2 separate regions of the Homo sapiens genome follow, and region 1 is linked to region 2. Evidence: fine-mapped expression QTL. A gene starts in region 2. The other region holds a variant in brackets. All regions are shown on one strand. Distances are from middle to middle.

Region 1 (4,380 bases), 26 kb before region 2:
CTGTTGGGATTTCCCTCCTTTACATTTTTGTTCTAAAATTTTTTTTTTGGAGACAGAATCTCGCCCTGTCACCCCGGCTGGAGTGCAGTGGCGCAATCTCGGCTCACTGCAACCTCCGCCTCCCACATTCAAGCGATTCTCCTGCCTCAGCCTCCCAAGTAGCTGAGATTACAGGCAGTAGCTGAGATTACAGGTGCCCACCACCACGCCTGGCTAATTTTTTGTATTTTATTAGAGACGGGGTTTCACCATGTTGGCCAGGATGGTCTCCACCTCCTAACCTCATGATCCGCCAGCCTCGGCCTCTCAAAGTGCTGGGATTACAGGCGTGAGCCACCACACCCGGCCTAATTTTGTATTTTTTAATAGAGACAGGGTTTTGCCATGTTGGCCAGGCTGGTCTCAAACTTCTGACCTCAGGTGATCCACCCACCCTGGCCTCCCAAAGTCCTGGGAGTACAGGCGTGAGCCACTGCGCCAGCCTAGATTTTAGAAAAAGAAATTATAGGACTGATGCATGTTCCTTGTCACAAGCAAAAGAATCCATGAGTGATCAGGAAAGCAGCCACTCCCTCTGGGGACACTACCTGTGCTGTGGAACCGTCCGAGGGAGCTGGACTCCTCATGCTCCAGGAAGAACCGCGGGTGCTCCATGATGCCAGCCCCTGTGGCTGTGTCCGGTTCGTGGATTAAGTCTTGTCTATCAAACTGCACCTTCTGGGACAAACATTTTTTGTGGGATTTGATTCTCCAACGTGGAACTGTGGGTTCAGAAACGGTGCTTATCTGTAACTTGTATTTGTTATTTTAAAAATTTCAGCTTGAAAAGTTGCAAGCGCCGTTCACATAACTCTTTCCTGACCTCAGAGCGAGCTGGTAACCCTCCACCTTCGCTCTCGGCACCTTCTGTCCGTTCCGGCAGGCAGGCTGTCCGTCCCAGTCCACACCGCAGCCCCCCAGCATCAACGAGCAGCACAGCTCCCTGCCTGGTGCAGGGCCTCAGCATTCACGCTGCTTCCTCCTGGGAGAGCCCGCCCCGCCTCTCAGGGACTCTCACAACCTTGGTGCGCAGAAGGTTCTGGACCGCAATTCGGGGACGCCCTCACTGGCTTTCTCCGGAGCGTGGGCATTGGAGTGGAAATACGTAGAATTGCTGGGGATCCTCGAAGCCGCCGGCAGCGCCCGATGCCAGCTTGTCCCATCAGGCGTTGGTCCCGACCTGCACTCAGCCACCTGCCCCCGGTTTTGTAATTGAGCATTGAGGGGAAGATGCCTGAACCCATATGAAACCTCTTTCCCCTCAAACGTTCCCTGCACGCATCAATTACATCAGCGCAGCTGGGCCTTCCCCTGAGCGTGATGTCCAGGGGCGAGGCCAGTGGCTTCCTGCGCGTGCCCGTCCCCACTCACAGCCCCTGACCTCCGGGGCCCCCACGCACCAGGCGCTCCCTGCCCGGCCCCATCTCCCGGAGCCCTGGAGGCTCAGCCTGGGTGTCGTGTGTGCCTCGTGCTCTTGGGAAAGTTACCTGTGTTTCTTCACATCTATATTTATTTACTTCCAAAACCACCAAGGTGTGTTGAAAACCCTGGAATTCCAGGCCAGGCGCGGCAGCTCACGCCTGTAATCCCAGCACTTTGGGAGGCCGAGACGGGCAGATCACGAGGTCAGGAGATCAAGACCATCCTGGCCAACATGGTGAAATCCCGTCTCCACTAAAAATACAAAAAAAAAAAAAAATTATCCGGGTGTGGTGGCGGGCGCCTGTGGTCCCAGCTACTGGGGAGGCCGAGGCAGGAGAATGGCTTGAACACGGGAGGTGGAACTTGCAG[T/C]GAGCCGAGATCGCGCCACTGCACTCCAGCCTGGGCGACAGAGCGAGACTCCATCTCAAAAAAAGAAAAAAAAGAAAACCCTGGAATTCCAGTCCGACCGCACAGGGCTCATCCCGTGCTCCTGGCATCCACTGGCTTCCCCACGGCGGGGAGCCCGCCTGCTCCCCTTGCAGATGCCCCTACTCCTCACCTGAGCCCAGCACCCACCCGGGGCCGCCCACCCGGCACAGCGCCTGCCCTCTGCTCGGCCCCGGCCACCCCAAGCCGGCGCAGGGTCCATGCTGTACTCCCAACCCCTGGCTCCCCACGGCCCGTGAGGATGCTCAGCCTCATGCAAAGGTCTCAGGACGAAATTGTCCAGGAAGGGAAGGCGAGCGGGAGGAAGGGGGCGGGCAGACAAGCTGTGCGGCCTCTTCTCGCCTCTCCTGGCTGCGCCCTCAGGTCCCCGATTCGAGCTTCCTGCCCCCACTGCCTGCATCCTACCGGCGCCTGACTGCACTTAGGGCCTCCTGGAAGTGCAGACTCGCCTCTCCATCTCAAGACCCTTAACTTACTTACACCTGCGAAGCTCCTGTTACCACATGTGGCAGCACTCCCAGGTTCCACGGCGGGGATGCGTCTCCGTGCCGTCGCTCAGCCGACCACGCAGCCCTCCCGGCCCCTTCCTGTCTTGGATGCGGCTGAGATTTCTGGAGCACAGCAGCCGTCCTGCAGCTGCAGCGAGTATTTAGAGTTCATAGCACAAGCCTGCCCCTATTTAAGTTGCAGAAATAACACATTTATCTCCAGGATTTGCCCCAACCCTTGCTCATCTCCAGGCCTCAGCCTTCCTGACACAATTCCACCTCCCTGGTACAGATGCTCGTGGCTCCTCAAGACACATTTTAAATCTTTTTTCTTTATTGAGCTGAAATTCACATCACATAAAATGAACCGTTTTAAAGCGTACAATTCGGTAGCATTTAGTCCATTTGCGATGTTGAGTGACCCTCACTCCCGTCTGGTTCCAAACGCTCTCCACCTGGAAGAGAACTCCCTCCCCGTGAGCATCTCTCCCACCGCCGCCCTGGCAACCCGGGCCTCCTCCCGCCTCCGGACCCGCCTGTTCTGGGCCTGCATAGAAACGGAAGCTCACAGTCGGGGCTGTGTGTCTGGCTTCTGTCCCCCATCGCCATTCTCCAGGCTCACCCCCTGCAGCCGTGCGGGCCTCATTCTTTTCCTGGTGGAATCCTGTTCCCTGGTGTGGAGGGCCACGCTGGGCTTATCTGTCGATCGTTTGTGGACACCTGAGCAGCTATGAAGAGTCTGCTTTGAACATCTGTGGACAACAATTTGTGTGACGTCTGTTTCCGATTCTCTTGGGTTTGTCCCAGGAGTGAGCTTTGGGGTCAGATGTCCAAGTTCACAGTCACACTCGAGCCGTGACCTCGGCCGGGGCCTTGCCAGGTCCAGTCCTGGCCTCAAGATGCCCCTTCAGGGTCAGCCCGCAGCCAGGGGTCCCAGAGCAGGCAAGGGCTTGAGGAGGGCCTCCCGGGGCTGGGGCACCTGCCTTTCAGGTGAAATATCAGAGTGTTCAACCCAGACCATACCAATGGCACCCGCGCGGAGTGCAGTCACCAGGGAACCGCCCTGCGGCGATGGCCCCGGCGGGGAGAGGGTGGGTGACGTGCGCTGCGGAGCATCTGCCCTGGTGGAGGTGCAGCCCCACTCAAAAAGGTTCACCGTGTGAGTTAAAGATGTTTACTGTGAACCCTGAAGCAACCACTAAAACAACAAAACAAAATTCTGGCTCATAAGCCAACAACTGCAATCAAACAGGATCATCAAACAGAATCCAAGGAAGGAAGAGGAAATGGGAAAGGGAGAGCCGGTGACAGCAGCGGGAGCAGAGAGCAGGACGGCGGGCGTGGCCTCTACACAGTGAGACCAATGGGAGCAGAGAACAGGATGGCAGGCGTGGCCTCTGCATAGTGAGACCAAAGGGAGCAGAGAACAGGAAGGTGGGCGTGGCAACTGCACACTGAGACCAATGGGAACAGAGCAGGACAGCAGGCGTGGCCTCCACGCAGCCACAGCCACACCGGAGCAAGTGGTCAGACAGCCCCAGTTAAGAGCAGAGATTGCCAGGGAGGGTAGGACAGCAAAACCCAACGCTAAACTGCTCATGAGAAATGCACTTTAGATATGGACACCAATAAGTCAAAAGGACAGGAAAAGCTATGCCATGCAAACAAAAATTTTTAAAACCTGCAGTGACTATGTCAATATCAAAGTAACTTCAGGGGCCGAGCACGGTGGCTCACGCCTGTAATCCCAACACTTTGGGAAGCTGAGGCGGGCAGATGACTTGAGGTCAGGAGTTCGAGTCCAGCCTGGCCAACATGGCGAAACCCTATCTCTACGAAAAATACAAAAAGTAGCTGGGCATGGTGGTGGGCGCCTGTAATCCCAGCTACTTGGGAGGCTGAGGCAGGAGAATCACTTGAACCTGGGAAACAGAGGTTGCAGTGAGCCGAGATCGTGCCACTGCACTCCAGCCTGGGCAACAGA
Region 2 (4,380 bases):
GCCAAGGCAGGTGGATTGCCTGAGCTCAGGAGTTTGAGACCAGCCCAGGCAACACAGTGAAACCCCGTCTCCACTAAAATACAAAAAAATTAGCCGGGCGCGGTGGCATGTGCCTGTAATCCCAGCTACTTGGGAGGCTGAGACAGGATAATTGCTTGAATCTGGGAGGCGGAGGTTGCAGTGAGCTGAGATCACGCCACCGCACTCCAGCCTGGGCAACAGAGTGAGACTCCATCTCAAAAAAAAAAAGAATTGCTCAAAGTAGAGGGCTCAAAACACATGGTCATAGAGCACAAATCCAGCAGAGAGAACTCACCTATGACTCTAGATGCTTTGAGAGATCAGCAGGCACACAGGCCCTACTGAGCATTCAGTGCTCCTAGGGGGTGGCTGGAGGTCTACTTCAGATCCCACTTCTGACACCAAACTGTTAAAACAAAAACTTTGGACAAATTAAATTTAAGAGTTTGTGTGTGTGTGTGTGTGTGTGTGTGTGTGTGTGTGTGTGTGTGACAGAGTCTCCCTCTGTCATGCAGGCTGGAGTGCAGTGGTGCAATCTCAGTTCACTGCAACCTCCACCTCCCAGATTCCAGTGATTCTCCTGCCTCAGCCTCCCGAGTAGCTGAGATTACAGATGCCACAACACCTGGCTAACTTTTGTGTTTTTAGTGGAGACGAGGTTTCGCCATGTTGGCCAGGCTGGTCTCGAACCCCTGATCTCAAGTGATCCACCCATGTTGGCCTCCCAAAGTGCTGGGATTACAGGTATGAGCCACTGTGCCCAGCCAACAGAGTTTAATTGAGCAAAACACAACTCATGAATTGGGCAGCACTCAGAACCAATGGGGGAGGTTCGAGAGCTCCACTCTGTAATGTGGGCAGGAAGTTTTTATAGATAGAACACAGAAGTGAGATACAAAAAAAAAAAAATCACAATTAGCTTGATTTTGTTACTGCTTGAAATGTTTGCCTTATATGGCATGATCAGATCAGTTAGCAGCCTGTGACTGGCTGAGACCCAGCTATTTGTTCCAAAATATACTCATAGGTTAAGCTTTTAGCTTGTTTCTGTGGTACATTAGGTTGCAGTTTGTTGTTACCTAGAAACTCAAGGCACAGAGGCAGCCTGTTAATTGAGTTAATTTAACAGTTCAAACAAATACTTATGCACCAGTGTTTATAACAGCACTATTCACAGAGTTAGTTTGAAAGCAATCTAAATTCCTTCTTTGGATAGCCTAGACATTTCTCCTGGCCATAAGAAGGGGTGATGCCCTGACACATGCTACAATGTGGATGAACCTTGAAAACATGCTCAGTGAATGAAGCCAGACAGAAAAGGCATTAACCCAGAAACAAATATTGCATTTCCTTGATATGAAATATCCAGAACAGGCAAGTCCATTCACTGAGACAGAAAAGCGACCAGTGGTTGCCAGGGCATGGGAGGAGTGTGGAACGGGTCGTGACTGCTTAATGGATGGGAGTTTTATTTTGGGGTGGGGAAAGTGTTTGGGGACGAAACAGAGGCGGTGGTGGTTGCACAATGTTGTGAATGTCACTGAATTGTTTACTTTAAAATAGTTAATTACATGCTATGCTGATTTTATCATAATAAACTATTTTAAAATTATTTTGTGAAAAACTGTGATGCTTGGGATTTGCTTCAAAATAATGTGGGTGGGGTGGAGGTTCGAAAAGTTACCAAAAAAAAAAAAAAAGAAAGAAAGAAAGAAAGAAAACTCTGGCTTGCAAAGAAGAAAACGGATCGGCCGTGGATCCCTCTCCAGCTCGAGGGCTGGAGCTGCGGCGGAGGCAGGAGCTGGAAGCGAGGCGTCTGCTGGCAAAGGCGGGAGTGCAGGTTGCGCTCGAAGCCCCGGCAGCCGCGGCAGGAACCGGCCTGGACGGGGTGGGGGGCGCCGCGGAGGCCGGCGGGACTTCCCATGTCTTTCTCCTCGAGCTCGGAAAAAGTTCCCACCCGGGGAATCCCGACCCTCCAACTTCGAGACCGCCGGTTCCGCGCTCGGCCCCCACCTGGACCAAGAGCTGGGGCTGGGCTGCCGCGCCCCCGGCTCTGTCCCCGCGAGGCCCCGCTCCCAGCCCCACCTGGGACACCCGGGACTCCCGGGACACCTGCGGGGCGGGGCGGGGCCGGGGCGAGGCGGGGCGGGCTCGAGGCCGCACCCCGGAGGCGGAGCCGCGAGCTACCCGCCCGCCGCGCGCCCCCCGCTCTCGGTGCGCAGCGGGGCCGACCCTCAGCCCTGCAGCGCCTTCCTGGAGGTGGGGGCCGCCCGCGCCATGGCCGCCGCCCAGCCCAAGTACCCCGCCGGGGCGACCGCCCGGCGCCTGGCCCGGGGCTGCTGGTCCGCCCTCTGGGACTACGAGACGCCCAAGGTGATCGTGGTGAGGAACCGGCGCCTGGGGGTCCTGTACCGCGCCGTGCAGCTGCTCATCCTGCTCTACTTCGTGTGGTGCGCGGGGCGCGGGGTGCGGGGCGCGGGGTGCGGGGCGCAGGGGAGGGGCTGGGATTGGGGGCGCTGGGCTGGAGGCGCGGGGCTGGGGCTGGGGCTGGGACCGGGGGCGCGGGGCAGGGGCTGGGGCTGGGACCGGGGGCGCGGGGCAGGGGCTGGGATTGGGGGCGCGGGGCAGGGGCTGGGACTGGGGGCGTGGGGCAGGGGCTGGGACTCGGGGTGCTGGGCTGGAGGCGCGGGGCTGGGGCTGGGACCAGGGGCGCGGGGCAGGGGCTGGGGCTGGGACCGGGGGCGCGGGGCAGGGGCTGGGGCTGGGACCGAGGGCGCGGGGCAGGCCCCAAGAGCCCCGCAGAGCGGACCCGGGTCGCGGGAGGGCCCCTGCCGTGCCTGCGGGCGGGACTCAGCCTTCCCAGGGTCGCCTCCGGAGCCGGCGCCGCCCCTGCCCGCAGGTACGTATTCATCGTGCAGAAAAGCTACCAGGAGAGCGAGACGGGCCCCGAGAGCTCCATCATCACCAAGGTCAAGGGGATCACCACGTCCGAGCACAAAGTGTGGGACGTGGAGGAGTACGTGAAGCCCCCCGAGGTGCGGGCCGCCCCCTGCCCCCCGCCCCGCCGTGCACCCTACCCTAGTGGGCGGAGGGGGCAGCGGCTGCCGCCTGGCCGACCGCCCCCTCTTTCTGAGCCCAGGGGGGCAGCGTGTTCAGCATCATCACCAGGGTCGAGGCCACCCACTCCCAGACCCAGGGAACCTGCCCCGAGGTGAGGGGATCCCGCGGCGCTGGGGGACCCCGCCTCAGCTAGGCGGGCCAGCTGTCCCTTGCGGGGTCCCTGACTGGGCCGCCTCCACCCTAGAGCATAAGGGTCCACAACGCCACCTGCCTCTCCGACGCCGACTGCGTGGCTGGGGAGCTGGACATGCTGGGAAACGGTCGGTGTGCGCCAGCTGGGGCTGGGCGGGTGGGGCAGGGCTGCGTCCCCGCTAATGCCTCAGTGACCTCTGCCTCCCAGGCCTGAGGACTGGGCGCTGTGTGCCCTATTACCAGGGGCCCTCCAAGACCTGCGAGGTGTTCGGCTGGTGCCCGGTGGAAGATGGGGCCTCTGTCAGGTGCACCTGCGCCCCGGCCTGGGGCCCAGCCTCCCCTCTGATCCTTTTCCCCTGACCAGAGGCCAAACGGGCGGGGCAGGAGTGACAAGATCTGGGGAGGGGTGGGGGCCAATGCCAGGCGGGGGCTTTGCGGGAAGAGGGGACTAAACAACCCTTCTGTGCCTCCTCAGCCAATTTCTGGGTACGATGGCCCCAAATTTCACCATCCTCATCAAGAACAGCATCCACTACCCCAAATTCCACTTCTCCAAGTAAGAGCCGCGGGGTGTGGTGACGGCCCAGCCTGAGGGCTGCCTTCTGGGAATGGGGTATTTGGGGTGCAGGTCTCGCCTCCTGCCGCCTCCTCAGGGGCAACATCGCCGACCGCACAGACGGGTACCTGAAGCGCTGCACGTTCCACGAGGCCTCCGACCTCTACTGCCCCATCTTCAAGCTGGGCTTTATCGTGGAGAAGGCTGGGGAGAGCTTCACAGAGCTCGCACACAAGGCAGGGCAAGCGCAGGCAGGGTGGGGCCAGGGTGGGCTCCCACCTGCACAGAGAGGGCCTGGGGTACAGGGGACCAGTCCCTCCTCCCTCCTGACCAGCTGGCCCCGCTCAGGCAGAGGAAAAGAAATGCGATCAGCGCAACCCATCCGGTGTGGCGCTTGCTGAATTATTGACACTGGCCATGGGGCTGGCTGCTGGCACCCCTTGTGCCTCAGACACTGGACGCCCACCAGTACCCCTGAGCTGCCCCATGGGCCCCTCAGTGCACACCTCACATGCAGCCTGGGACTGACCCGGGCTCTCGAGGGGCCTCTC

Evidence for each region. PIP is the estimated chance that this variant, and not a neighbour inherited with it, causes the effect. A credible set is the group of variants that fine-mapping cannot tell apart.
Region 1: its variant is the best candidate, but not a certain one, in a credible set for the expression of P2RX2 in unexposed skin (GTEx, PIP 0.57).

Annotation. Positions count from the first base shown.
Region 1 is chr12:132,590,323-132,594,702 of GRCh38, forward strand. It overlaps LOC124903062 (a long non-coding RNA gene), which reads right to left and starts at 4,142. Exons shown (of 2, transcript XR_007063549.1): 1 at 3,019-4,142; 2 at 2,709-2,851. RefSeq lists an enhancer at 3,806-3,855. The variant T/C (reference allele first, on the strand shown) is at 1,831.
Region 2 is chr12:132,616,519-132,620,898 of GRCh38, forward strand. It overlaps P2RX2 (purinergic receptor P2X 2), which reads left to right and starts at 2,258. Exons shown (of 11, transcript NM_170682.4): 1 at 2,258-2,471; 2 at 2,921-3,056; 3 at 3,161-3,232; 4 at 3,326-3,401; 5 at 3,482-3,578; 6 at 3,749-3,829; 7 at 3,927-4,065. The coding sequence starts at 2,299.